Linked DNA regions of Homo sapiens: all the other regions are linked to region 6. Evidence: fine-mapped expression QTL. A gene starts in region 6. Each other region holds a variant in brackets. All regions are shown on one strand. Distances are between the middles of the regions.

The links.
Region 1: its variant is fine-mapped to the expression of PARAIL in monocytes (Schmiedel 2018, PIP 0.95).
Region 2: its variant is fine-mapped to the expression of PARAIL in whole blood (TOPMed, PIP above 0.99).
Region 3: its variant is fine-mapped to the expression of PARAIL in left ventricle (GTEx, PIP 0.94).
Region 4: its variant is fine-mapped to the expression of PARAIL in whole blood (TOPMed, PIP above 0.99).
Region 5: its variant is fine-mapped to the expression of PARAIL in cerebellum (GTEx, PIP above 0.99). The same link has a PIP of 0.9 or more in prefrontal cortex.
Region 7: its variant is fine-mapped to the expression of PARAIL in fibroblasts (GTEx, PIP above 0.99).

The regions. Positions count from the first base shown.
Region 1 is chr8:89,727,296-89,731,364 of GRCh38, reverse strand. The region is part of intron 1 of PARAIL (palmitic acid regulated anti-inflammatory lncRNA); the gene reads left to right. Among named protein-coding and RNA genes, the nearest start is that of PARAIL, 28 kb to the left of the region's middle. RefSeq lists an enhancer at 1,613-1,662 and a silencer at 1,863-1,912. The variant AG/G (reference allele first, on the strand shown) is at 1,915.
Region 2 is chr8:89,722,138-89,726,206 of GRCh38, reverse strand. PARAIL (palmitic acid regulated anti-inflammatory lncRNA) reads left to right here. Exons shown (of 5, transcript NR_125822.1): 2 at 566-689; 3 at 1,241-1,578; 4 at 4,051-4,069. Among named protein-coding and RNA genes, the nearest start is that of PARAIL, 34 kb to the left of the region's middle. RefSeq lists enhancers at 99-198, 249-298, 329-378, 1-503. The variant G/C (reference allele first, on the strand shown) is at 1,530.
Region 3 is chr8:89,594,016-89,598,084 of GRCh38, reverse strand. No RefSeq gene overlaps it. Among named protein-coding and RNA genes, the nearest start is that of PARAIL, 160 kb to the left of the region's middle. The variant A/G (reference allele first, on the strand shown) is at 2,068.
Region 4 is chr8:89,715,556-89,719,624 of GRCh38, reverse strand. PARAIL (palmitic acid regulated anti-inflammatory lncRNA) reads left to right here. Exons shown (of 5, transcript NR_125822.1): 5 at 1,897-2,226. Among named protein-coding and RNA genes, the nearest start is that of PARAIL, 40 kb to the left of the region's middle. The variant G/A (reference allele first, on the strand shown) is at 1,966.
Region 5 is chr8:89,707,702-89,711,770 of GRCh38, reverse strand. No RefSeq gene overlaps it. Among named protein-coding and RNA genes, the nearest start is that of PARAIL, 48 kb to the left of the region's middle. The variant A/C (reference allele first, on the strand shown) is at 2,181.
Region 6 is chr8:89,756,170-89,760,238 of GRCh38, reverse strand. PARAIL (palmitic acid regulated anti-inflammatory lncRNA) reads left to right here and starts at 2,528. Exons shown (of 5, transcript NR_125822.1): 1 at 2,528-3,194. It overlaps RIPK2 (receptor interacting serine/threonine kinase 2), which reads right to left and starts at 2,423. Exons shown (of 11, transcript NM_003821.6): 1 at 2,006-2,423. The coding sequence starts at 2,178. RefSeq lists enhancers at 580-669, 1,948-2,017 and a silencer at 2,558-2,677.
Region 7 is chr8:89,800,178-89,804,246 of GRCh38, reverse strand. No RefSeq gene overlaps it. Among named protein-coding and RNA genes, the nearest start is that of RIPK2, 44 kb to the right of the region's middle. The variant A/G (reference allele first, on the strand shown) is at 2,347.

The DNA of each region.
Region 1 (4,069 bases), 29 kb after region 6:
GGATTACAGGCATAAGCCACTGCGCCTGACCTTATGTAACCTATCTTTACTCTTTTTCATTATTTTTTCTTTTTGTTCCTGAGAGTGAATGATTTCTGGTGATCTGTCTTCAAGTTCATTGATCTTTCCTTCTGCTTGATTAGTCTGCTACTCAACCCCTCTGCTGAATTTTTTAGTTAGGGTTCAGTTATAGTATTCTTCAGTCTATAACTTTTGTTCGGTACTTTTTATTACTTTCTATCTTTTTTTATCAATGCTCTCATTTTGTTTTTGTGTTGCTCTCCTGACTTCATTGAGGATCTGTAATACCATTAGTTTGAATTCCCTGTCAGATAAACTACATATCTCCAATTCATTCAGATTGGTTTATGTAGATTTACCTTGTTCCTTTATTTGGGAACAAGATAAATCTTGATCTTAATTTCCCTTGACTCTCTGTTATGATTTCTTTCTTTTTTTTGTTTTTGAGACAGTGGCTCTCTCTATCACCCAGGCTGGAGTGCAGTGGCGCTATGTCAGCTCACTGCAACTTCCGTCCCCCAGGCTCAAGCAGTTCTCTCACCTCAGCCTCCTGAGTAGCTGGGATTACAGGCATGTGCCACCATACCCAGCTGATTTTCATATTTTTAGTAGTAATGGGGTCTCACCATTTTGGCCAGGCTGGTCTTGAACTCCTGACCTCAAGTGATCCACCTGCCTTGGCCTCCCGAATTTCTGGGATTATAGGCATGAGCCACTGTGCCTGGCCCTCTGTTATGATTTCTAATTAAAAAGAAATACATGTATCAAATAGGCATGGTAAGACATCCAAACATTATAAAAAGGCATGTGGATGAAAAATGGACCTTCCTGATACTGCAGATCTCTAGTCCGTCTCTCCTAATGAAACAAACAAACAAAAAACAACAGATATTTTATGTACCATTGGGCTAGGTGATGGAAATACAAGAATAACAAAATGCATGTGGTCTCTGCCCTGAAATGTTTTTAGTGTTCTAAAGAAGATAGACACCACAATATGCAGTTACAGCGTCATTAATTTTAGAATAGGGAAGTCCAGGTTCTGATAGGGAATTCCAGGTTACACTCATAATAATAGGCGAGAGAAGTATGTATGTTAATTTAATGAAAGTGAGGTCTGTAGAGGTTAGGTAAATTGCCAGAAGTCACAGTTTTGTAAATTATGGAGATAGGATTTCTGAACACATCTGTTTGAATCAAAGTTCATATTATTTCTGGGAACTACTTGATTTATCAGTAGAGTGCTTCAGTTTCGGTTTTACTTTCTGTAATGTCTGAGGAGAGAAACTTAGTGACAAGAGGGAATTTCCCAGCTACAAAAAGACATAATTGGAAAAATATTTATTATTAATAGACACTACTTAGGAAATTCCATTTTCCTTTTATATTTTACTTGGCAGGTTTCCAAGAATGTGGAAGAACATGTAACTAGTATTTCGCTTGCATTTAAACATTTTCGCCTTTGAATTCAGCGGGATATTTTGCTTTTTAATTTTTTTTCAGAATTCAAAATTGTATTTTTCACCTGTCACTCCTGGGTCATAAACAAAATATACTAAGGTATATTAACTTTTTAGCTGGGCGCGGTGGCTCACGCCTGTAATCCCAGCACTTTGGGAGGCTGAGGCGGGCAGATCACAAGGTCAGGAGATCGAGACCATCCTGGCTAACACGGTGAGACCCCGTCTCTACTAAAAATACAAAAAAATCAGCCGGGCGTGGTGGCGGGCGCCTGTAGTCCCAGTTGCTCCGGAGGCTGAGGCAGGAGAATGGCGTGAACCCGGGAGGCGGAGCTTGCAGTGAGCCGAGATCGCGCCACTGCACTCCAGCGCGCCACAGCACTCCAGCCTGGGCGACAGAGCGAGACTCCGTCTCAAAAAAAAAAAAAAAAAA[AG/G]GCAACACACACACACACACACACACACACACACACACTTCTTAAGAAGTGACTGTGAAAGGAGGTTATAAGTTCAGTAACCTTTTTAACATCCTGTTTTGGGCAGATACAGTTGTAGAAGAAGGCGGAGCTGTTCTTATTGTAGTAGCCTGTGTAATCTAGGTCATCACAGGGCGGGCTGGTGCAATTCTCTGGAAGGGGGAACTATGACTGCATCAGGGATCCAACGTCAGCAGCTGAACATGACAAAACTGTGGAGTTTATTGGGACATAAAGAGCACTCAGGAACCTTCTTTGGCTCAATTTTAATAGTTGTCAAACAGAATAGAAATGTCTGCCCTTCCAGGGCAGCCATTTTTGTACAACTCCAGTGGGGATGTTGTTCACAGTGGGGAGGTATCATTCACATGGAATACATGATCATTGGGGCCCCTGAAGTTGTGCAATGTGGAGGTACTATGGTCTATTTATCTTCCAAGATTGTTCTGAGAGGCTCAAGTTACACAATGAATATATAAGGACTTTATAAGCCTGTCAATATTCGTAAATAATGACAATAATAAGTGTTGTTTTCTGGCCAATTCTGCCCTTTGAGCAAAGCTTTCTTATCTAGTTTGCACTACTGGCTAAGACTTGGCTTAGCACTCACAGTGAAGCTGTGGAGTTCTCTTTCTGAATATATACATTTTCACAGAACACAAACTTCACACATGATCTCTTTGTGACTATAATGGAGCAAGATGGAAATTAGACTACTTCATGATCATTTCAGAACAGAGAAAAATAAGAACACTGTCCAATCCATGAAAATGAGTGAACATTCCCCTTTCCTGGCTAATAATGAATAACTGCTGATTCTTTCCAATTATAGCATTAGCTTACTTCATTCCTTTCAATGTTTAGATAAGAATAATTAAGATACCTAATCAGGGAATTCCCCCTGTTTCTGTACAACATCCAGTCCAGGGAAGATCCCCATTTTCTTGAAAGCTCCCCCGAATCACCTACCACAAACTCAAATCCTGTAAGTTTTTTCTAACACCTTCTTACTGATATGCTCAAGGGTCTCCCATGGTATTTGTTTCTCCCCCTTGCAATGAATTAATAAACCCAGTTTTATAGAACTGCAGATGTGTTGCTGGTGGTCTTTGACTAGAGGACATTGACAAATTCATACAGTAGTTATTACTCAGCCAGGAGCCCTCTCTCTATCTCAGTCAGAGAGGTGGCTCCTCTGACTTCTCTAAGGATTTTGTCTATGGCATTGGTGCTGTTTCAGAGCCCATAGCTGGACATGTAAACATCAGAACCAAATAACATAAATTTCCAGTTTTATTTATTTTAATATGTTTTAGAGACGGTGTCTCACTCTGTCACTCAGGTTGGAGTGCAGTGGCTCAGACATGGCCCACTGCAGCCTGGACCGCTCAAGGCTCAGGTAATCCTCCCACCGCAGCACCCCAAATAGCTGGGACTACAGGCATGCACCACCACATCTGGCCAATTTTTGTATTTTTTATAGAGACAAGTTTTCACCATATCACCCAGGCTGGTCTTAAACTCCTGAGCTCAGGCAATCCGCCCACCTCGGCCTCCTAAATTGCTGGGTTTTACAGGTATGAGCCACCTTGCCAGGTTTGCAGTTTTCTTTAGATTTGCTTTGTGATAAGGTGGTAAACTTGTTAGAATAAAGGGATTATGTAAATTTCTATTTAGTGAGTAATCAAATGGTACACACATCTAAATTAAATGTCTAAGATAGCTTAGTTATTAAGCAGCTTACATGGAAGACAGCAGAGTATACATATGTATATCTACACAAATATTTAACAGAAACACTGTAAAGAGATTCAGTAATATTCATGCTAAAATGAGAAGAAGACTAGGGAGGTAGTGAATGAAGAATCAAATCAGTAGTATTTTGTAGGGAATAAATTATCGAGGAAAATTTATGGAAAGAGAAGATCTGAAGGTGCAGTTTAAACGAGATGACTATTTTTGCTACCACAGACAACAAAAAGTTTTTCCAGAGTCTGGATGGTACATTTTTAATGTATGGTCATGGTTAATCATGTGTGCATCCTCTTATACTCTGGGGCAATAAAATGTTTTAATAGGTGAGTACCATAATATGAATTAGTAATTTTGTATTCA
Region 2 (4,069 bases), 34 kb after region 6:
GGGGTGTGGGGATGAGACCAGCTGGCAGACATTGGCTAAGCCAGACCCTGGGCTGAGTTGGATTGCATAGGCCTTGTGACTCTATTATTAAACACAGATCCTGAGGGTGAATGACAGCATCTGTGAGATTTTTGAGTCAGTTCTGAAGTAGGTTCTCAGCCAAGTTAGGCAGACATAGAAAAGTAATTATAAAATGCCTAGGCACCAGCCCCACCTAGAGTTGATGCTTAGAATGAGGTAGATAGTAGCAGAAGGAGCAGTTTTTTAAGCCAGTGAGCTTTACAGTGGGGGAAGGGGCAGAATGGGGAAGTCCTTTATTCTGAGCTCTTAAGCATGCCAGGAGCAGATGCCTGATTTTACTGTGTGGCACTTTGTGGCCCAGAAACTTTCCAGATTCTGTATTTTCCTATCTGGTTAAATGTAACTGTATTTACCTGTGTTTCAAAGCCTGAATGCTTTATTTATTCTCTACTTAATTTTCTTTTCCAGTTTTTCCTAACAAGCTTCCCTAGATTTACTTGTTCTCACTTCCTAGACGCTATTTGTATTCTTCCTTCTTCTCTAGTTCATTGGAAATTTCTGCTTCTTTGAGACTGAGGTTATATTCCACTTCTTCTGACTACACCACCACCATCAATCTCCTTCTCTGAACTCTTGGATCATTACTTCAACCTGAAACAACTCATCAGGTATCTATAAAGGTGGTTATTTGAGTTCCTGTTTTTAGGATTCCAAAATGATGCCAAGATATGTAAAATGAAATGTTAATTGCATTTTTTTTGAGGGGGTTAGAACTATGTAAGTCCCAAAAGAGACAAAGAGTTTAGCTCAAAGCTATCAGATGTTGGAATCAGAAGTTTGGCTTAGGTTAATAAAATGTTTTGCTGTTTAATTTACAAAATTTTTCAAGATCAGGTCCCTGGAGGGAAAATAGCAAAAGGAATTCCTGATAGAGAAAAGTTGCAAACCACTAATTGTGTATAGATTTGGTATTTTGTTATGTGTAGTAAAGTGGTTGAGAGTATGATCTTTGAAGTCAGGCAGACCTGGGTTTGCCACTTTCTATCTGTATAACTCTGTACTTTGCATTATCTTTGGGAGTCTTGGTTTCTCACCTAGAAAGTGAGTCAAGGCAAATAATTTACTCAGCACAATGCCTGCCATATAGTAAATGTTCAGTGTTATCATTATTGTTGTTGCATCTTATTTGCTCTTTTTTGTGGTTTATGTCCTGTGTTAGGCAGAATAGTTGCCTACTGCCCCAACCCCACCAAATGTTCCAGCACCTCTGATATTACCTCACATGGCAAGAGGGCTTTGAAGATGTGATTGAGTCAAGGATCTTGAATGGGGAGATTATCCTGAATTATTCAGCTGGACCCAGTGTAATCACAAAGGTTTTTCAAAGATGGAAGAGAGGCAGAAGAGCCAGAAAAGGATATGTGACAATGGAGTCAGTGTCAGAGTTGGAGTGACGTGATGTGAGAAGGATTCAACCTGCTGTTTCTGGCTTTGAGGATGAAAGAAGG[G/C]GCCATGAGCCAAGCAATACAGGTGGCTTCTTTCAAGAAGTTGGAAAAGGTAAGGAAATGGGTTCTCACCTAGAACTGCTGGAAAGCAACCCAGCCCTACTGACACCATGATTTTAGCTCAGTGAGACTCTGTCCAGATTTCTGACCTCTAGAACTATAAGATAATAAATTTGCATTGTTTTAAGCCACTAAGTTTGTGGTAATTTGATAAAGCATCAACAAAAAATGAACACTTCTTCCCAGCAGGACTCCTTTTGAAGACCAGTTCTGTATACATCATCGTATCCAGTGTAAGTACTGGATGTAAATATGGATCAATAATTTGGAATTTACTGAGGTTTCCAGTGGTGAGGCACAATAACTTGTAATTTGCAATTTTTTGTAGTGGAGAAGAGATAACCATGAGTCAGCTCTCTTTCTGCATACACATTTCCATTGCAGCACAAGTTAAAGATACTGGAGAAATTCCCCATCTCACTACCAAGGACAGACCTAACTGACAATAAATTCATCTATAGCCCAGTCAGGGTTTTCCCCTCATTGTCCCTGCCTTCCACAATTGCAGCTAGTTTTCAAAAAGATACATAAAAATAGCTACCATGAATTTAGCACATGGTATGTGCCAGGAGTTATGCTAAATGCTCTGCGTATGTTATCTTACTTAATCCTCCAAAATTTTCCATGGTGGTAAAAATAAATGTTTCTTGTTTTCAAACTTCAGGTCATGACTCTCAGTGGATTTTGAAATCAATTTTGTAGGGAGTGATCAGTAGTTATTAAACAATAAAATAGAATATGAAATATCATTGCATTTCAGGAAGTAAGAGTAGGCATAGCTTCATCAAATTTTGGTTTCAATTATATATATATCTTATCATGTCTATAAAATAAACACATATGTGTATGTACTGGGTTGTGTTACAGAACATATTTCTTACAATGAGTCCTAGTAAAAATTACTTTTTTTTTTTTTTGAGACGGAGTTTTGCTCTTGTTGCCCAGGCTGGAGTGCATTGTGCGATCTCGGCTCACTGCAGCCTCCACCTCCCAGGTTCAAGCGATTCTCCTGCCTCAGCCTCCTGAGTAGCTGGAATTACAGACATGTGCCACCACGCCTAGATAATTTTTTTTTTTTTTTTTTTTGTAGAGACGGGATTTCTCCATGTTGGTCAGGCTGGTCTCGAACTCCTGACCTCAGGTGATCTGCCCACCCCAGCCTCCCAAAGTGCTGGGATTACATGTGTGAGCCACCACACCCAGCCCTTAAAAAATTACTTCTTGGAGTGGGTTGTATTTAAATTTTTTAAAAACCACCAATGAAGTGGTTAAGAATATAGGCTTTAGCAACAGGGCTACCTGAGTTTATTCTCAGTTCTTTATTTTACCAGCTCTGTGATCTTGAGTATATTACTTACTGTTTTTACCTCAGTTACCTCATTTATAGGATCCTATCTCATAGGGACTTTTGAGGAGTAAATGAATTCATTCAAGTTAAGCACTTTGAACAGTGCCTTAGTAATTAACAATTAGCTAATGTTACTTTCCCAATGTTATGTGGGTTAGTAAGTGGTAAAACCTACCAGATTCCCATTCTGTCTGACAAAGTCTAGTCTCTTAGCTACTGTGTGTCGCTGCCTGAGTGTGAAATCTAAAGCAATTTTACAGTAATTTATGTGGCCCCTCAAAACAAACAAATCAACAAAATTAAAAAGTCTCCCTTTATAATAAATGGTACCAGTACATGAAAATACTGGGGATGCCTTTTTCTCAGGGACTTGGCTGATTTGGCATAACCTTATCTCTGAGGGAAAACAAGTTTTGTGACTTGTTCCACTCTGAATTTCAAGAGAGGAATATGTGGAAGGTACTGAGTGCTTTTGACATATAGAGAACAAAGCGATGACTCACTTAAACCCTGATAGTAGGGGCACCATATAAATTATTATATCTAAAGGGAGTCAGGTCAAAGAAGAAATCTTGCAAGAATCTGGAGGGAGATCTGTTGTCTAAAAGCTTATTAGGTGACTAGGGTATCGGTTTTGCTAGTGTTTGTTTTTATCTTGTTTTTTCCCTTCCTCAGTTCCAGCAGGCATTTTAGTGATCTCTTGAAACACGTTTTGACTCTACTTGGTGATTGAAATACACAGCCAGGCTGTGTTGCTTTTATAAGCTCTGAAAGTTTAAGAATTTAGGAAGCTAATGACTGTCTTAAATTACAGTTAAATCTAATTGATAAAATCCTGGGACATTGAACGATTGATTTTAGTATTCAGCTAATAACCCATTTAAAATGAATTCCATACTTCTTTCAACTTGCTTGACTGAAGAGTAATTTTGTCGCTAGTTACTGTATTACTGGAAAATGTATTCCTAGGCTTTAAGATTTGGGAAGCGTGTGAGTCTAACTTCTCAAACAGAATTTGACAAGGACGTAGCAGTGTTTTAAAAAGTCAGGGAAAGGAAAGAGGTGTGTTCAGCATTCCTGCCCCATCTTAACATATTCTTTTTCTCGTCTTAACAGTGGTAATATTTTATGTTAT
Region 3 (4,069 bases), 160 kb after region 6:
ATTAGATCCACTTGATGCAGAGCTCAGTTCAATTCCTGGGTATCCATGTTAACTTTGTGTCTCATTGATCTGTCTAATGTTGACAGTGGGGTGTTAAAGTCTCCCATTATTATTGTGTGGGAGTCTAAGTCTCTTTGTAGGTCACTCAGGACTTGCTTTATGAAACTGGGTCCTCCTGTATTGGGTGCATATATATTTAGGATAGTTAGCTCTTCTTGTTGAATTGAATAAATACTTAAACGTTAGACCTAAAACCATAAAAACTCTAGAGGAAAACCTAGGCATTACCATTCAGGACATAGGCATGGGCAAGGACTTCATGTCTAAAACACCAAAAGCAATGGCAACAAAAGACAAAATTGACAAATGGGATCTAATTAAACTAAAGAGCTTCTGCACAGCAAAAGAAACTACCATCAGAGTGAACAGGCAACCTACAAAATGGGAGAAAATTTCGCAACGTACTCATCTGACAAAGGACTAATATCCAGAATCTACAATGAACTCAAACAAATTTACAAGAAAAAAACAAACAACCCCATCAAAAAGTGGGCATAGGACATGAACAGACACTTCTCAAAAGAAGACATTTATGCAGCCAAAAAGCACATGAAAAAATGCCCACCATCATTGGCCATCTGAAAAATGCAAATCAAAACCACAATGAGATACCATCTCACACCAGTTAGAATGGCAATCATTCAAATGTCAGGAAACAACAGGTGCTGGAGAGGATGTGGAGAAATAGGAACACTTTTACACTGTTGGTGGGACTGTAAACTATTTCAACCCTTGTGGAAGTCAGTATGGCGATTCTTCAGGGATCTAGAACTGGAAATACCATTTGACCCATCCATCCCATTACTGGGTATATACCCAAAGGACTATAAATCATGCTGCTATAAAGACACATGCCATGTATGTTTATTGCGGCACTATTCACAATAGCAAAGACTTGGAACCAACCCAAATGTCCAACAATGATAGACTGGATTAAGAAAATGTGGCACATATACACCCTGGAATACTATGCAGCCATAAAAATGATGAATTCATGTCCTTTGTAGGGACATGGATGAAATTGGAAATCATTATTCTTAGTAAACTATCGCAAGAACACAAAACCAAACACCGTATATGCTGCCTCATAGGTGGGAATTGAACGATGAGATCACATGGACACAGGAAGGGGAACATCACACTCTGGGGACTGTTGTGAGGTGGGCGGAGAGGGGAGGGATAGCATTAGGAGATATACCTAATGCTAAATGACGAGTTAATGGGTGCAGCACAGTAGCATGGCACATGTATACATACGTAACTAACCTGCACATTGTGCACATGTACCCTAAAACTTAAAGTATAATAATAAAAAAAAAGAATGTTATGATAGCCTTAATTTGACTTCATGGGTGCTGTGTTACCTATTGGTCACAGTTTGTCATTTACTAAGTAAAAAGAGAGAGATTCCGATAATGGAAAGAGTAGAAGACTGAGTTTAAGTTTTCAGCACTACTGTTCACTAATTGTGTGAATTTGTTGTTCCTTCTCCCCATAATCTCATTACCCCAGATCTTGACATCTATGGTTCTTCATTGTTCAGGACACAGCTGAAGTATTACCTTTCCCAAGAGATCTTACATGACAATAACCACCCCTGTCCTATGTAAGTACTACATACTTCAGTTGCTTTCACACATCACCCTGTTTTACTGTGTTTATTGCAGTTGTCATTGTGTGAAATGGTCTTGTTTCACCATTATTGTATTTTGCCAAGTAGAGCACTATCCAACAGCAAGATGACAGTGTTGAAGTTTACTTAATGTTTCCACAATTCATTGCATCATTTTAACTACATGGATATCTTAAGTCCTCCAGGTCTACTTCCTGTCCTTAACAGTGAACTGTATTATGACATCATGCAGAGCCCATGGTGCCAGCAGTAGCCCTGCTGGTAATGCTTGCTTATGATTGCCGAATTGGGGGTCAGCCTGTCCTGTGTTTGTGTTTTATTTATTATCTTCTGCGTGTAGCTAGGGGATCAATGTGTGATCTTACTCCATTGTA[A/G]AAGAATATAAACTGATGCTGTGTAGTACAAAACTTCTCATTCAGGATATTGTTTTTCTGGTATCAAGCTGAAATGTAAATGCTTTGTTTTATGGAGATTAATTTAAAAAGTATTTGTCAGAAGTATTCAACAGTGACCTTTAGAGTTGAAAGGAACTCAAGTATTTCAGAGGGATAAAGTTGAGTATGTTATTTTCTCCTTCCACAATTCAGAAACTGGGTAAAATAACACAAAATTTACTTGTCCGCCAAGTCCTGATTTTCACATGTTAGGGTTAACTTATCTCAAGGTCTTTTTTGAATGACATGCTTGCAGATGTTTTTCACATTTTTTTCTTCATTCCTTTGCAAGCTCAGCAGCTGTACACTTGCAAGCTAAGCCTTGTTCCCTGAATATGCCAAAGGGCTGCAGAGGTAGAATCAGCTCTAGCTAATCTAACCTCCAGTAGGAATCATTTTGGGGAACTTGACACCTAATGTTGCTCTGGTGGTGTTTAGTTCATGTCCATGACATCCCTGTGACTCCCATTTTCCTATCACACTCTCTGGACACAATAGGCCACATTTCCTATCTCCCCTTTTCTTCAGTTTCCTTCTCATGACTCCTTTGAGGACTGGGCATGGTCTCAAATGGAAGTTTGGCAAAACCAGATATGAACCTTGTAAAATGGATGGGTGGTCTCTGGAGTGATCAGTTTACAGTTTCAAGCTGCTCTGAATTGAGAGCCAAAGCAAATCTTATGACACAGAGAAGAAAAAATTACTTCATATTTTCCATCTCAGTTCTAGTTCATTTCATAATCATCAGCAAAAACAATCTACCTCACAAAGATAAAAGTCTGCATTTCCCTCAAATATTATCTTTATCAAAGAAATTAGAAAAAAATCTGAGGCCTGCGTCATAGGAGAAGTGACTGAGGAACTAAAATGATGACTAGAGTTAATATTGCTAACAAATAAAAACACTGTTAAAACTTTAGACTTCAAATAGATAATATTGTTTGCAATAAATGACATATGAAGTCACAATAAATACTTATGTTTGTTGCCTAGTGCACTTCACTTTTCAATGCTGAACAAAAATGCTACTTGTTATATGAAGGTTTCCACCATCCTCAGGCAGAATTAATTACTCCCCCATCTGTGTTTGTAGCACTACTTCAGGCCTCTATTACTGCATTTATCATTGTAATATCTTTATTTTGTTGGTTTGTTCATTAATGCACTTACTCAATAGAGCAGAGTGGTTAAGAGTATGAACTCTGGAGCTAGACTGCCTGGATTTTAGTCTTAGTCCTGATTCATTCCTTCTTTCTTTCCTCCCACCTTCCTTCCTTCCTTCCTTCTTCCTTCCTTCCTTCCTTCCTTCCTTCCTTCCTCCCTCCCTTCATCTCTTCCTCCCTCATTCCTTCCTCTTTTCCTCCCTCTCTTCCTTCCCCTCTTCCTCCCTCCCTACCTTCCTTCTTTCCTTCCCCCTTAAAATAAATTATATATATATAGCACACAACATAATCTAGTTGGATACATATAGATAGTAAAATAGTTACTATAGTGAAGCAAATTAGCATCTCCATCATCTCACATAGTTACCCATTTTTTTTGTGTGTGTGGCAAGAGTAGTTGAGATCTACTCATTTTGCAAAAATTCCTGAATACAATATTATTAATAATCATCCTATTGAACATTAGATCTCGATATTATTCATTCTACATGTCTGCTACTTTGTATCCTTTGATCTACATCTTTCAATTTCTGCCTCTTTCCAATACTGGCAACCTGGTAATACTGTTTTATTATCTGTTTCTGTATACTTGACCTAAAAATTTTTTTTTTAATTCCACATGTAAGTGAGATCATATAATGTTTTTCTTTTATTCCTGGCTTATTTCACTTAGCATAATGTCCTGTAGTTTCATTGATGTTGTGGCAAGTGGCAAGATCTCCTTCTTTTTAAAGGGCAAATTATATTCCATTATACACATCCACCCACACACACACACA
Region 4 (4,069 bases), 41 kb after region 6:
AGTATGTTTCAAGTAACTTGGTTATGGTTTTGAATGACTAGGAAAATGCTTTGCTTTTTTTGAAAGGGAAATTGTTCAAAAATGAGATTCAATGGAAAACACAGAGGGTGCTAAAAATGCAGAGACATTGTATAAACCTATAAGAAATTTTACATGGAACCAGAATTTTGATGCCCCTTAAAAGGAAACCAATGAGATTCCTTATTCATTAGTACTTTGAAAGTTGGCAGTGGAATGAGGATCTGTGGAGGAAGGGACAGCTGGATCTTGCACTCAGGACTTCTGCCCTCTGCTCCTCAAAGAACTCATTAGTCACTGTTCCCACTCCCACCCTGGCACCAAGGAAAATGTGGATGTTTCCACCTTTCCCACCCAGGCCTATTTAGGGCATACAACCCTTCCTGAATTTCCTGCAGTACAGTTGAGATCACACTGTAGCCTCTAACAAGCATTTACCAGAGATTCAGCGATGACAACAGAGAACTACAATATAATGAGTAACAGATAACCACTCCATAGATGTTGCATGCATTTCCGAGTGTATACAGCCCATTCTCACCTTACAGGAGAACCAGGAAAAGAGAACAATTTGGGAAGGTCTCTTCATTTAATTTTTCCCACACTGCTGCCTCTTCTATCTTTGGCTTGTTTCTTCTTCTCACTTAGGAGGAAGTGGTTCTCAGATAATTGACTAATCACTTCTTCATGGTCGTGAACTCAAGGACTTACCTGTTATGAGGGGAGAAGCATAATAAAGATTACATCATGTGAACTTTTGAAATAAAATGCCCGAAGACATAAGAGAGACCCTTACCACTGTCACACTCAAAAGGAAAGCTTAGTAGCTACAGAGATTTAAAAAGCAAGCAAACAAGCAACCAAGCAAACAACAAAGACCTGAAGAAAATTCCAGAATAATCCTCAACCTGTGCTTTCACATGCTAAATTTTCATAATGAGAAAGATAAACTGTGTATCTTGTGGTGTCAGTGGTCAGTGTGGTGATAGTAGTTGTGGTTTGGGCTGCTTTTTTCCTTGTTTATTTTTTCCAAATTTTATTTGGGAAAATTTCTGCTGTTTCCATTGTGAACTAAAGTTACATATACTGGATGATATAACTTTAACTCCTAAGAGTATGTTTGGCTATGTTTTTGGAATTAGGTATTATGCATGCCACCTTGTGGCCATTATTAAGAAAACACCTAACATGAAGACGAGAAACAGGATCATTAGTGAGAGCAGCTTGAGCTTGGAGCAGTACTTTCCCAAGTCTGTTTCTCCAACAGCATCCTTAGAACCCTTAGAACCTGGATATCACATTTTAGTGGGAGGAGACAGACAATAAATAAAACAAAGTATAGTAAGTGCTCTGGAGAAAAGTAATGCAAAGAAGAGGGCCAGAAAGTATCAAAAAGTTTGAAATTACAAATAAGGTACTCTTGGAAGACCTCACTAAGGTCACATTTGAGCAGAGATCTGAACAGCATGAGAGACAACTGGGGGTGGGGGGGGGCAGAATAATGTTTCAGATATGTACATTGCAACTGCAAAGGCCTGAGACAGGAATTTGCCTGGCCTGTTCCAGCTTAGCAAAGAAAGAGGCCTGTGTTAATGATACTCAGAGAGGAAGGAGGCAATAGTAGAACATGAAGCCAGAAAAGTGACCAGATGCAGGAGTGACTAAGGCTTTGTAGACTGCTGTATAGACTCTGAGGGAAATGAGCAGTCATTGATGGGTTTTTCGCACAGAAGGATCTTGGTGTGTTTTAAAAGGAACATTCTGTATTCTATGTTGAAAACAGACTGAAAAGCACAAGAGAAAGAACAGGAAGAGCAATTAGGAGGCTGTGGTAGATTATTATTCAGCAAATATTCACCCTACTGTCCTCCCCATAAGATTTCCCCAGGCCACCATCACTGGATTTGGCTATTTGACTTGCTGTAGTCAATGGAATGTGAGTGAAAA[G/A]TGACTCTGTACCAGTGGGGAGGCAAAGCCTTAAAAGACCCAGCAAATTTCTTCCAGCCCTTTTGTGCTTCTGCCAAAAGAATACTGTGAGCAATCAGTGCCCTTAAGCCTGGGCCTCAGAACGAGAGATATGGAGCAAACCTGAACCTGAACAGCAGCCTACAATCAAGCCAGGATGACCCTGCAAAGCCCAGCCAACGATAGCAAAGCCACAGCAGACTTGTAGACCAATGAGCATGAAATAAATTGCATTGAAAGCTACTGAGATTGGAGGAATAATTTTTATGCAGGATTACTGCAGTGAACCTGATTGATACAGGAGCTACTGCAATAATCCAGGGAAAGAGGGGATGATGAGCTGAAGTAAACTAGGATGGTTGCGATCGGATTAGAGTCTGTATATACATTTGAGGACAAGATTTGAAAGAATTTGCTGATGGTTTAGCTATTAAGTGTGAAAGAGAAATTTTGAAATTTTGGTCCAAACAATGGGAATGATTGAGTTGCCATTTACTGACACGGGGAACATGAAAGAAGGGGCAGGTTTACTTGATTCAGGGCATGCAGAGGAGAGCAGAGTTAAACTTTATATATGTTAAGTTTCATATGCGTCTTATATTTGGAAGTAGAGGTATCTTCCTATATTTGTAAAAAGAGGTATCCAGCAAGTAATTTGACATTTAAAAAAGATTTCTGGAGATCATTTCTGCTCTGGCTATAATGGGATGACAGAGACTACATTTACTGTGTACCTCAAACAAATAGAAAATTGGACAAAACAATGTTTTCAGGCATAATAAACAAATTGAACCTTATTATTACCTCAGCTTGGCTTGCCACCTAGAGGCAGTTTTCGAGCTTTAATAGATGGAGGGTTTATTAGTCTGTTTTCACGCTGCTATAAAGAATGACCTGAAACTGGGTAATTTAAAAAGGAAAGAGGTTTAATTGACTCACAGTTCCTCATGGCTGGGGAGGCCTCAGGAAACTTACAATCATGGTGGAAGGTGAAGGGGAAGCAAGGCATGTCTTTAAGAGGTGGCAGGAGAGAGAGAGAGACAGAGAGAGAGAGAGAGAGACAGAGAGAGCAAAAGTGCAGGGGAAACTGCCGCTTTTAAACCGTCAGATCTCATGAGAACTCCCTCACTATCACAAGAACAGCATAGGGAAAACTGCCCACATGATCCAGTCACCTCCCACCAAGTCCCTTTCTTGACACATGGGGGATTACAATTTGAGATAAGATTTAGGTGGGGACACAGAGCCAAACCATATCAGAGGGAAACCTCGAACAGATCCTGGCAGTCTACCTTAGTGGAGGGATTAGAAATTAGAGTTCATGGAGACTAAAGTGGATAGAGATTTTGGGTGGGGGGGGGGGGTTGGTGAAGAGAGAGAGAGAGAGATAAGAGAGAATATACCCAGAGATCACAAAGGGGTCCCTTGAGCCTTGGTATGTGCATGTGAGAGAGAAAGATACCCCTGGCAGGGGTAAGAACTGCTGGGAGGCAATAAGCCAAATAATTCCTGAAGCTCACTTAAGGCTGGGAAGAGTTTGTGTTCCCATCAGTTAGAGTGGAAAGACCTTATTACACTGTATTATATAGGGGCATTGAATAGAATCCTCAGAAGAATACCTCAGTAGTGAAGTTAGTAGTGAGGCTAAATTAGCCCTGGACTAAAATATACTCTGGATTTCCCTAACAAGCCTCAAAAGAGGTAGACTGCTACTAAGTAACATAACTGCGTGCTAGAACAAAGCCTAAGACTACTAGAAGGGTTACAACAAAATCTACCACCCTATTAAGTGAGGTTTCAATGTCGCAAAGCAATAAAACATTTACCAGACAGTAGAAAGAATAAGAAACCTAACCCATAATCAGAAGAAAAATGTCAATAAATAGAAACAGCACCAGAAATGACAGAGGTGATGTAATGACTAAAATTGTCTATTGTAAATATGCTTCACATCATGAGTAAGGTATAGGGAAGCATGAGCATGATGAAGAGAGATATAGATAATAGAAGAAGACAAATCAAAGTTATAGAGATGAAAAATACAATAGATTCTTCATTTCATCTCTGAAATGAATAGATTGAACGG
Region 5 (4,069 bases), 48 kb after region 6:
AATGGTACCAGCTCCTCCTTGTACCTCTGGTAGAATTCGGCTGTGAATCCATCTGGTCCTGGACTTTTTTTGTTGGTAAACTATTCATTATTGCCTCAATTTCAGAGCCTGTTGTTGGTCTATTCAGGGATTCAACTTCTTCCTGGTTTAGTCTTGGGAGGGTGTATGTGTCGAGGAATTTATCCATTTCTTCTAGGTTTTCTAGTTTATTTGTGTAGAGGTAGTTATAGTATTCTCTGATGGTAGTTTGTATTTCTGAGGGATCGGTGATGATATCCCCTTTATCTATCATTTTTTATTGCATATATTTAATTCTTCTCTCTTTTCTTCTTTATTGGTCTTTCCAGCGGTCTATGAATTTTGTTGATCTCTTAAAAAAACCAGCTCCTGGATTCATTGATCTTTTGAAGGGTTTTTTGTGTCTCTATTTCCTTCAGTTTTGCTCTGATCTTAGTTATTTCTTGCCTTCTGCTAGCTTTTGAATGTGTTTGCTCTTGCTTCTCTAGTTCTTTTAATTGTGATGTTAGGGTGTCAATTTTGGATCTTTCCTGCTTTCTCTTGTGGGCATTTAGTGCTATAAATTTCCCTCTACACACTGCTTTGAATGTCTCCCAGAGATTCTTGTATCTTGTATCTTTGTTCTCGTTGGTTTCAAAGAACATCTGTATTTCTGCCTTCATTTCGTTATGTACCCAGTAGTCATTTAGGAGCAGGCTGTTCAGTTCCCATGTAGTTGAGCAGTTGTGAGTGAGATTCTTAATCCTGAGTTCTAGTTTGATTGCACTGTGGTCTGAGGGACAGTTTGTTATAATTTCTGTTCTTTTACATTTGCTGAGGAGTGCTTTACTTCCAAGTGTGTGGTCAATTTTGGAATAAGTGTGGTGTGGTGCTGAGAAGAATGTATATTCTGTTGATTTGGGATGGAGAGTTCTGTAGATGTCTATTAGGTCCGCTTGGTGCAGAGCTGAGTTCAATTCCTGGATATCCTTGTTAACTTTCTGTCTCGTTGATCTGTCTAATGTTGACAGTGGGGTGTTGAAGTCTCCCATTATTATTGTGTGGGAGTCTTAGTCTCTTTCTAGGTCTCTAAGGACTTGCTGTATGAATCTGGGTGCTCCTGTATTGGGTGCATATATATTTAGGATAGTTAGCTCCTCTTGTTGAATTGATCCCTTTACCATTATGTAATGGCCTTCTTTGTCTCTTCTGATCTTTGTTGGCTTAAAGTCTGTTTTTTCAGAGACTAGGATTGCAACCCCTGCCTTTTTTTGTTTTCCATTTGCTTGGTAGATCTTCCTCCATCCTTTTCTTTTGAGCCTATGTGTGTGTCTGCATGTGAGATGGGTTTCCTGAATGCAGCACACTGATGGGCCTTGACTCTTTATCCAATTTGCCAATGTGTGTGTTTTAAGTGGAGCATTTAGCCCATTTACATGAAAGGTTAGTATTGTTATGTGTGAATTTGATCCTGTCATTATGATGTTAGCTGGTTATTTTGCTCGTTAGTTGATGCAGTTTCTTCCTAGCCTCGATGGTCTTTACAATTTGGCATGTTTTTGCAGTGGCTGTTACCGGTTTTTCCTTTCCATGTTTAGTGCTTCCTTCAGGAGCTCTTTTAGGGCAGGCCTGGTGGTGACAAAATCTCTCAGCATTTGCTTGTCTGTAAAGTATTTTATTTCTCCTTCAGTTATCAAGCTTAGTTTGGCTGGATATGAAATTCTGGGTTGAAAATTCTTTTCTTTAAGAATGTTGAATATTGGCCCCCACTCTCTTCTGGCTTGTAGAGTTTCTGCCGAGAGATCTGCTGTTAGTCTGATGGGCTTCCCTTTGTGGGTAACCCGACCTTTCTCTCTGGCTGCCCTTAACATTTTTTCCTTCATTTCAACTTTGGTGAATCTGACAATTATGTGTCTTGGAGTTGCTCTTCTCGAGGAGTATCTTTGTGGTGTTCTCTATATTTCCTGAATTTGAATGTTGGCCTGCCTTGCTAGATTGGGGAAGTTCTCCTGGATAATATCCTGCAGAGTGTTTTCCAACTTGGTTCCATTCACCCTGTCACTTTCAGGTACACCAGTCAGATGTAGATTTGGTCTTTTCACATAGTCCCATATTTCTTGGAGGCTTTGTTCATTTCTTTTTATTCTTTTTTCTCTAAACTTCTCTTCTCGCTTCATTTCATT[A/C]ATTCATTTGATCTTCCATCACTGATACCCTTTCTTCCAGTTGATCAAATCAGCTAGTGAGGCTTGTGCATTCATCACGTAGTTCTCGTGCCTTGGTTTTCAGCTCCATCAGGTCCTTTAAGGACTTCTCTGCATTGGTTATTCTAGTTAGCCATTCATCTAATTTTTTTTCAAGGTTTTTGGCTTCTTTGTGATGGTTTCGAACTTCCTCCTTTAGCTCGGAGTAGTTTGATCGTCTGAAGCCTTCTTCTCTCAACTCGTCAAAGTCATTCTCCATCCAGCTTTGTTCCGTTGCTGGTGAGGAGCTGCATTCCTTTGAACGAGGAGAGGCACTCTGATTTTTAGAGTTTCCAGTTTTTCTGCTCGGTTTTTTCCCCATCTTAGTGGTTTTATCTACCTTTGGTCTTTGATAATGGTGACATACAGATGGGGTTTTGGTGTGGATGTCCTTTCTGTTTGTTAGCTTTCCTTCTAACAGTCAGGACCCTCAGGTGCAGGTCTGTTGGAGTTTGCTGGAGGTCCACTCCAGACCCTGTTTGCCTGGGTATCAGCAGCGGAGGCTGCATAACAGCGGGTATTGGTGAACAGCAAATGTTGCTGCCAGATCTTTCCTCTGGAAGTTTTGTCTCAGGGTAGTACCCGGCTGTGTGAGGTGTCAATCTGCCCCTACTGGGGGGTGCCTCCCAGTTAGGGTACTCAGGGGTCAGGGACCCACTTGAGGAGGCAGTCTATCCGTTCTCAGATCTCCAGCTGCATGCTGGGAGAACCATTACTCTCTTCAAAGCTGTCAGACAGGGACATTTAAGTCTGCAGAGGTTTCTGCTGCCTTTTGTTTGGCAATGCCCTGCCCCCAGAGGTGGCATCTACAGAGGCAGGCAGGCCTCCTTGAGCTGCAGTGGGCTCCACCCAGTTCAAGCTTCCTGGCCACTTTGTTTACCTACTCAAGCCTTGGCAATGGTGGGCGCCCCTCCGCCAGCCTCGCTGCCATCTTGCAGTTTGATCTCAGACTGCTGGGCTAGCAATGAGCGAGGCTCCGTGGGCATAGGACCCTCCGAGCCAGGCGTGGGCTATAATCTCCTGGTGTGCCCTTTGCTAAGACTGTTGGAAATGCGCAGTATTAGGGTGGGAGTGACCCGATTTTCCAGGTGCCGTCTGTCACCCCTTTCTTTGACTAGGAAAGGGAATTCCCCGACCCCTTGAACTTCCCGGGTGAGGCAATGCCTCCCCCTACTTCGGCTCACGCTTGGTGTGCTGCACCCACTGTCCTGTACCCACTTTCCGACACTCCCCAGTGAGATGAACCCAGTACCTCAGTTGGAAATGCGGAAATCACCCATCTTCTGCATCACTCATGCTGGGAGCTGTAGACTGGAGCTGTTCCTGTTCAGCCATCTTGGCTCCACCCCCTTTCCACATCTTGACTGCAACTTCATGAGAGACCCTTAGCCAGAACCACCCAGCTAAACCCATCCAGATGCACAGAAACTGTGGGAGATCATAAATGTTTATTGCTGTTTTAAGCTGCTAAGTTTGGGGTATTTTGTTATTCAGCAATAGGTAACTAACACAACAGTCTACCACCAGATGACAAATCATTTCCCACACAGTGAATGAAACCTTCAACAATATACTTCTATTTCACCTCCTGTCCACATATACTACTTTCTTTCTGTGTTTTATTGTGATTCCTAGCTAGTGAAGTTTGGCAAGAAAAAGAAACAAAATACATAGAGAAAAGAAAGTGTTTTTATTTGCAGATAACATGATAATCCACTTTTTAAAAAAACTGAAGAATTACGCTACTGGAACTAATAAGTAAGTTTCACAAGGCTGCAGGATGCAAGGTCAATATTCAGAAATTCATTATATTTCTATATAGTTACAATCGA
Region 6 (4,069 bases):
CTTATTTTTTTTCAGGTCATCCCAAAGAACAATGCAAACATTGTTCTCCATAGTCCGAGAAACACATGTATTTATTATTCGTATTTTATAAGTGAGGAAAGAGACACCAGTGAGTCAACTGCATAGCCTCATCTAATGCTCAGACTACATAAATACTGCAATGATAAGATCTTAAGTAACAAATTGGAGAAAAGAATGTGATGCAGTAAATGCCAGAGTGTTTCGCTGGTCTTATGGCTTCCTCGAAGACAGAATTAATTTCCTACCCAATTCAGTGAAGAATTTTAGACTATGAAAATTGTTCATGAGTATGGGAAGGAAACTCCCTCTTCACTTCTTGGTCCCCAAACTGCACAAAGCTTAGATAAATCAAAATCCTGAGAAGCAGCACCCAAAGTGGGAGGATCAATTGGCTTTTCAATACCTAATGGGTCCATCAGTGCTACATTTCCATATAGTGTTTGCATAACTGGTTCTAACATATATCCACCCTCTCTAACCAACCACCACCCTTAAAAGTTGACTACAGACACATATACACACTTGTCCAGCACTTGCTCCACAGAATATAAGGCCTGGAGTAAACAGACACCACACCTTGTATATCACTGAATCTGGATTATGATAGACAAGAAGTGGAAACAAGCTCTAGAAGTGTCCCAAATCTCCTGTGCCATTTAGGCCATCGAAGCCTGACAGTGAGAGACAATGAAGAAAAGCCACAGGCAGGTGAAAATCCAGTAACTTTGGCAGGGCGGAAGCTGAGGAATTTATCTGATGCTGGATACTCACAGCTTCTGGCCAATCAGGCATCGGGGATGACGTATTTTCACATTAGATATAGGAGGAGGAGAAGAGAATGTTGTAATCATGGATGTTAACTCACTAAGAACTGAATGCTGGGCCTAGTTAAATCCCTGTAGGAAGTAAAATACACAAGACTAGTGACCCATTGACTAATACACAGTCACAGGTCTATGGCACGCGGTTGTAATGTTCTTCTGAAAACAGAAACTAATGCTAACCTTCCCTTAAAACCTGTACAAACCAATAAGTGAAAGCCATTTACAATTTCTGGCCATTTAACAGTCTTTTGGTTCAATTTATTGTGGCAAAAATAGCACACATTTCCTCTACTTAATCTTCCCTGTGAGAGAAACTGAGACTGGGAGAAACTGAACTGCTAGTATTGAGTTTGATATAAAACGTTCCTGACAACACATAATAAACCAAAACCAAAATAAAAACAATAAGAAGCAAAACATCCTTGATTCTAAAGCAGTGCGGTCCAATAAACATATAATGTGAACACCACCACATACAATTTAAAATTTTCTCGTGGCCACATAAAGTAAAAAGAAACACATAAAATGAATTTTAATCTTATATTTAACCCAAGATATCAAAAATGTTATTTCAGCATATAATCAATAAACAAATAATAAAATATTATAAGTTCTTTTTTTAATAAATACTAAGCATTCGAACTCTGGTATTTTACACTTAGGTCACACTTCAATTCGGACGGGCACATTTCAAGTGCTCAATAGCCACCTGTGGCTAAGAGCTACCTACTGGACAGTGCAGCCCTACAGCCCAATTTCAAAAATAAGGAAAAAACAAAGCAAACAAAACCCACACCCACTATATATAAACACACATCAATTTCAGTAAACCCAGCGTTTAGAGTTAGGCAGTGATTGCTGATTTTTGGAGTACGGAGCCAGAACGCCTAGGAGTAAGAGGGAAGGAGAGAAAGGGTAATGGAGAGATGTGTGGAGGAATGCAACTGCTGCATCTCCAGAGAAGCCTGTGCTCCCTACGGTGCCAGAGCTTGAAGGGTGGGTGCTCCCTATCTCCCAAGCTTGAAGGGCTCCCTAGAGGTGACGAGGTGAGGCCGGCCCCAAGCGGTCACTGCCATTTGGGCTCTAGAGCCCGCTTGTCAGGGGGCTTGAGGGGATGCAGGAGTTGAGGGCTCTTCCAGGGAACCCCAGTGACTGCCTACCTGTCGAGCAGCGGAGTGTGGATGTGCAGGTGCTTCACGGCCACCTGGACGCGCCAGTCTGCGTGGCGGGCGGACGACACAGTGCCAGAGGCGCCGCGGCTCAGGTAGCGCAGGTCGGCGAGTTTGTGGTAGGGAATGGTGGGCAGGGCGCTGCAGATGGCCTCCCCGTTCATGGTCCCGGGCGCTCAGGCCGGTTCCGGGTGTGCCCCCTGCTGCGGCGGCTCCCAAGGCTCCCACGCCGCGCTCAGGCGCCCAGATACGCCCCTGCACGAGCGAGGCCGGCAAGACCCTTTTTGCCCCGCAACACTAGGTCACGAGGGCGCCCATTCCCCGGATGGCCCACGCCAGCCGCTGCTTCTCCGAACCAGAGCTGACTTCTTTTCTAGAGACTGGTGCCAACGCCGTAGCGCCGCGAAAGAGCTTCCTCTCTCGCAGCCCCGGCCCTCCCCCCGGCGCGCGCAGCGACCAGCTCCGGCCGCCCGAGCTCCTCCCTCCCCAAACTTCGCAGGTTACGTCAGCGGCGGACGGCAAGGCGGGGAGAGGGGCAGCCCGCTCGCGGCCCTCCCGCCTGGCTCTCGCCTCGGCCTGCGGCCGGGATCCTCCGCCCGGGTCGCGCAGCGGAGGCCGAGGGCTGGGACGGGCGGCTGGGAAGTGGGAAAGGGAGCTCCTTTTGTCTTCTCTTCCCATCCCCCAGGTTTGGGAAAGTTTTCCTTTTGGGAAAGCCCCTCTCTTCAGCCTGCTGGCGGGTGTCGGATTGGTTAGCGACCACCGGCCCCCGCCTCCCCCAACAGGATTCTCCTTTGGGCCACAGGTCTTCCGGAAGTTGCCAAACCCCGGTAGCGGCAGCGTCCGGCTGGGGGCTTTATTAGGGGGCACCGGGGTCTGCTTTCCGACTCCCTTCCGACTCCGCGCCTGCGCAGGAAGCGATTTGGGGAGTGTTGTGAATTCCGAGGGCTCCACACTTAAGAGGTTGTACACTCACCTGTCTACCTGGACTCCAATTTCCATATTTCCAGCCACTTGAGGACTGAGAGGTGGATGATAAACCCTGTCATAGTGGAGCAAGTTCAGGTGTTTAACCGCTGTTATGGGGGATCTGCCTTTTCTCCCTCTTCTTTCTTACTTCCATAAGTATGTATGTGCAGAGATTGAAAAATAACCTTGAGAGAGTCCATCCATCTAACTCCAGGTAAGACTGCAAATATTTCTTTCTTATAAATCTGGGAGGAATGCAGTCAGTGTTTCATGCCAACCAAAAAAGACTGCAAACGTTTTTCCATCCTTCTGCCTTGAATACCTTTCTACTTAGATGACTATTTTGTAAGACGTGAGTGCAAATGTTATATACAATACCAACTCCATACTAGATGTTTAATTAATTCTAGGGATTCAGTAATAAGGAATGACTCGAACAGATTTCTGCCTACAGACAGCTAATGCTTCTTGTATTTTTGCATTACCTGAAATGAAAGTAGCAATGTTAGATTTTACAGTAGTGGGAGGTTGTAAACAATAGTATGTTAAACATTTTTGATCATTTATAATAAAATGTTCAGCACTAAACATATGGTCTGATACTCTGTGCTTTATTGCTTAATAAGCTTTTTTTTTTCTTTTCGAGAGGGAGTCGTGCTCTGTCACCCAGGCTGGAGTGTAGTGGCGCGATCTCTGCTCTGCTCATTGCAACCTCTGCCTCCCTGGTTCAAGCAATTCTTCTGCCTCAGCCTCCCAAGTAGCTTGGATTACAGGCGCCCGCCACCACACCCAGCTAATTTTTGTATTTTTAGTAGAGACGGGGTTTCACCGTGTTGGCCAAGCTGGTCTCGAACTCCTGACCTCGTGATCCGCCCACCTTGTCCTCCCAAAGTGCTGGGATTACAGGCGTGAGCCACCGCGCCCGGCCAATAAGCTTTTTTCTTAAAAAGTACTCAGAAGACTTTTCTATCCATTCATTCTGTTAACGCGCGTCAGTGTGAAGAGACCACCAAACAGGCTTTGGGTGAGCAATAAAGCTTTTAATCATGTGGGTGTAGGCCGACTTAGTTCGAAAAAGGAGTCAGCAAA
Region 7 (4,069 bases), 44 kb before region 6:
GGTGGGTGGATCACCTGAGATCAGGAGTTTGAGACCAGCTTGGCCAACACAGTGAAACCCCGTCTCTATGAAAAATACAAAAAATTAGCTGGGTGTCGTGGCACGTGCCTGTAATCCCAGCTACTCAGGAGGCTGAAACAGGAGAATTGCTTGAACCTGGGAGGAGAAGGTTGCAGTGAGCCAAGATCGTGCCACTGCATGACAGCCTGGGCAACAAGAGCAAAACCCTGTCTCAAAAATAATAATAATAATAATAAGTATGCACATATATGTCAAATTTACACTATGTTCTGGATGGTATTGCCTAGGTTTTCTTCTAGGGTTTTTATGGTTTGGGGTGTTACATTTAAGTCTTTAATCCATCTCGAGTTAATCTTTGTATAAGGTGTAAGGAAGGGGTCCAGTTTCTGTTTTCTCCATATGGCTAGCCAGTTTTTCCAGCACCATTTATTAAATAGGGAATACTTTCCCCATTTCTTGTTTTTGTCAGGTTTGTCAAAGATCGGGTGGTTGTAGATGTGTGGTGTTATTTCTGAGGGCTCTGTTCTGTTCCATTGGTCTACATATCTGTTTTGGCACCAGTACCATGCTGTTTTGGTTACTGTAGCCTTGTAGTATAGTTTGAAGTCAGACACAGGGAGGGGAACATCACACACCAGGGTCTGTCCGGGGGTGGAAGGCAAGGGGAGGGAAAGCATTAGAACAAATACCTAATGCCTGTGGGGCTTAAAATCTAGATGATGGTTTGATAGGTGCAGAAAACCACCATGGCACATGTATACCTATGTAACAAACCTGCACATTCTGCACGTGTATCCCAGAACTTAAAGTAAAATTTTTAAAAAAATTATATAAATTAATTTAAATTTATATTTTATATAAATTCATTTACATATAAATGAATAACATATACACCATACCTATTCATATTTTTTCTAATAGCAGAAAGTCAGGAAAATTAAAACGTTCATCAAGAGGAAATAGATTAAATATTGGTACATCAATATAATGAAGCACCACATAATAGTTTAAAAAATAATATAATTTACATGTAATGACATATAAATATGTAAGAAGCAAATTCCAAAACAGAATGTGTAATTAGTTTACAGAAAAACAAAATCTGGAAACCTAATCACTAGACTGTGAATTTAGAAAGCAGTGAGGTAAAAAGGAGAAAAAATCCTCTCTGTTATGAAAAGAGGAAAGAGAAAGACAGAAGTAGACAGAAAGGGCTGACTTTATTTTATTTATTTATTTATTTTATGAGAAACTCTCGGCAGGCTTAAGTGTTTCTAGAAGGAAACTTTCTAAGGGAATGGTTGGAGTGAAGTGAGAGGGAGAGTCATCTAACAAGCTAGAGGAGAAATGCAGAAACAAAGGATTATTCTTAGTAGGAGAAGGGGTAATTCTGCCAGCATAATATGAGAATAAAAAGACAAAAATACAAATATGATTTAGTTAATAAGAATTGTGTTTATTCTTTATTTAATAGTATTGAGGGTCATTTATAATATCTTAGATTATTTGAAATTTTTATGTTGTTTTAAACTTTTTGTTGTATTAAGCCAGCATTTCTCAAAGTATCACCCAGAGACGCTGTGACCTTTCAGGGAATCTGCTAGGTCAAACCTATTTCCATAATAATTCTGAGATGTTATTGCATTTATTACTCCCATACTCTCACAGGTGAACAGTGGAGTTTTCCAGAGGCTACATGACATGTGATTTTGCAACAGATTGAATGCAGATATGAAAACCCAGTTCTCTTCTATTTACTTACTTTTTTAAACATTCAAAGAGATATGCAAAAATGTAAAATAACATGGTTCTTCTCATCAACTGTTTTTCACTTTGGATGTTTTAAATGAATTAATATATTCTTGACTTCTCAGTTTTAATTTCTAGTGGCAAATAAGGATTGATATAACCCCCAAAAGCAAAATCTCTTTTGGTTTCTCAATAGTTTTTAAGCAATGCCTCAGTGACCATCATCATGGCTTAATCTTTACACACACCTATGATTATTTCCTTAGAATAAATTCTTGGATATTGAATTCGTGTAATCCCCTGATGGGTTCTTCCTGCCAGTTGCACAGACAAAACCATTTCACTGAGACTGCAGTATTGCAGTAGAGAAAGAGTTTAATTAACGTGGAGCTAGCCAAATGGAAGGGCTGGAGTTATTACTCATATCAGTCTCACGAAGAACTCAGAGGCTAGGGTTTTTATGGATAATTTGGTGGGCAGGGGGATAGGGAATGGGTGCTGCTGATTGGGTGAGAATGAAATCATAGGGGTGTGGAAAATGGTGCTTGTGTGCTGTATCTGCCTCTGAGTGAGAGC[A/G]GTAGAACCGGTTGAGTCATGAGTCATGGGTTTGGGTGGGATCAGTCAGTTGCCAGAATGCAAAAATCTGAAAAACATCTCAAAAGACCAACCTCAGGTTCTACAGCAGTGACACTATCTTTAGGAGCAAGTGGGGAAGTCACAAATCTTGTGACCTCTGGCCACATGACTCCACTCCTGAGCAGTAAGGGAACATAGAAACTATGCCTACATTTTAGCAGAATTCAGATCCCTCCCACAATCCTATGTCATAAACGTTCATTAGTTTTACAAAGGCAGCTTTGGTCTCTGAGCAAGGCAGGGATCAGTTTTAGGGAAGGACTATTATGATCCTTGTTTCAAAATTAAACTATATACTAAGATTTTCCCATGATTAGCTTGGTCTATGCCCAGGAATGAGTGAAGACAGCCAGCCTGTGAGACTAGAAGCAAGAGGGCATGAGTCATGCTAGCGTTCTCTCACTGTCATAATATTTGCAAAGGTGTTTTCATTGATGGGTCAAAAAGTGCAAAGGTTTGAGGAGACAGGGCAACCAAATGTAATGTGGTATTATAGAGGCCAGGGGAAAACTTCCCCTTTGCCCTCTGAAGGTTTGCTGAAATCAATTGATGAAAGGCAGAAAAGGCATACAAATGTATTAATGTGGTGGAATCACAAAGGGATTCCCCCAATCTTCCAATGGGTACAGCTTATATACCCTTTTTCATAGGGGAGGGAAGCGCTGGGGGATATAGACAATTCTTTGAGGGGCAGTAAATGACTATTAGGGAGAATGGACGGACCAGGGAACAGTAATTAACTTGTAAAGGATTTTCTCTGGAATTTTCTCTGAGCTCCAGTGGCAGGAATTATCTTCTTAAAAACAAGTCTGTCCAGGTGTGGTTGCATTCTTGTCTTTTTTCTGCAATAGATAATGCCATTTTAGGAAGCAGATAGAAGGCAATTTTTTTTTTTTTGTAAGAGACTTTTTTGAACAGATGAGGAAACTCCAGAGAGAGTCCCTTCCTGTCCTGGGAGGTGAAGTGGGCTGGGGAAACAACACAAGGTTAGACAGGACCTTGTTTCTGGGGCCTTTCAATTTTCAAAAGCACTCAGCATGCCCAAGCCCCACAGGCTGGGGAATCATTTTCCACACCTCATCAGCATCCTGGATGGGATCTTGGAGCAGAAAAAAGACATTAGGCGAGTCTCGCTCTGTTGCCCAGGCTGGAGTGCAATGGTGTGATCTCAGCTCACTACAATCTCTGCCTCCTGAGTTCAAACAATTCTCTTGCCTCAGCCACCCAAGTAGCTGGGATTGCCTGATTAACTTTTTTTTTTTTTTTTGTATTTTTAGTAGAGATGGGGTTTACCATGTTGGCCAGGCTGGTCTCAAACTCCTGGTCTCAAGTGATTAGCCTACCACAGCCTCCCAAAGTGTTGGGACTACAGGCGTGAGCCACCATGCCTGACTCAGAATCTAGTTTAAACAGAGTTGATTCAAGTGCAAAGTTTGAAGCCGGGCTTCTTGGGAAGCACAGATTCTAAAGAATGGAAGTCAGTGTTCCAAAGTATAGAAGTTTTCACTCATATTCACAAAGTTTAGGGAAGTTTAGCAGAATATCAACACCTTCCTATGTTAGGCTTAATGTATAGTTACAATGATCTGATTTGTTGAGGTGGTATTTTTCTTTCAGGAAAGGCACGTCAAGCTGAAACAGTCAAACGGATCAGAATCAAGTT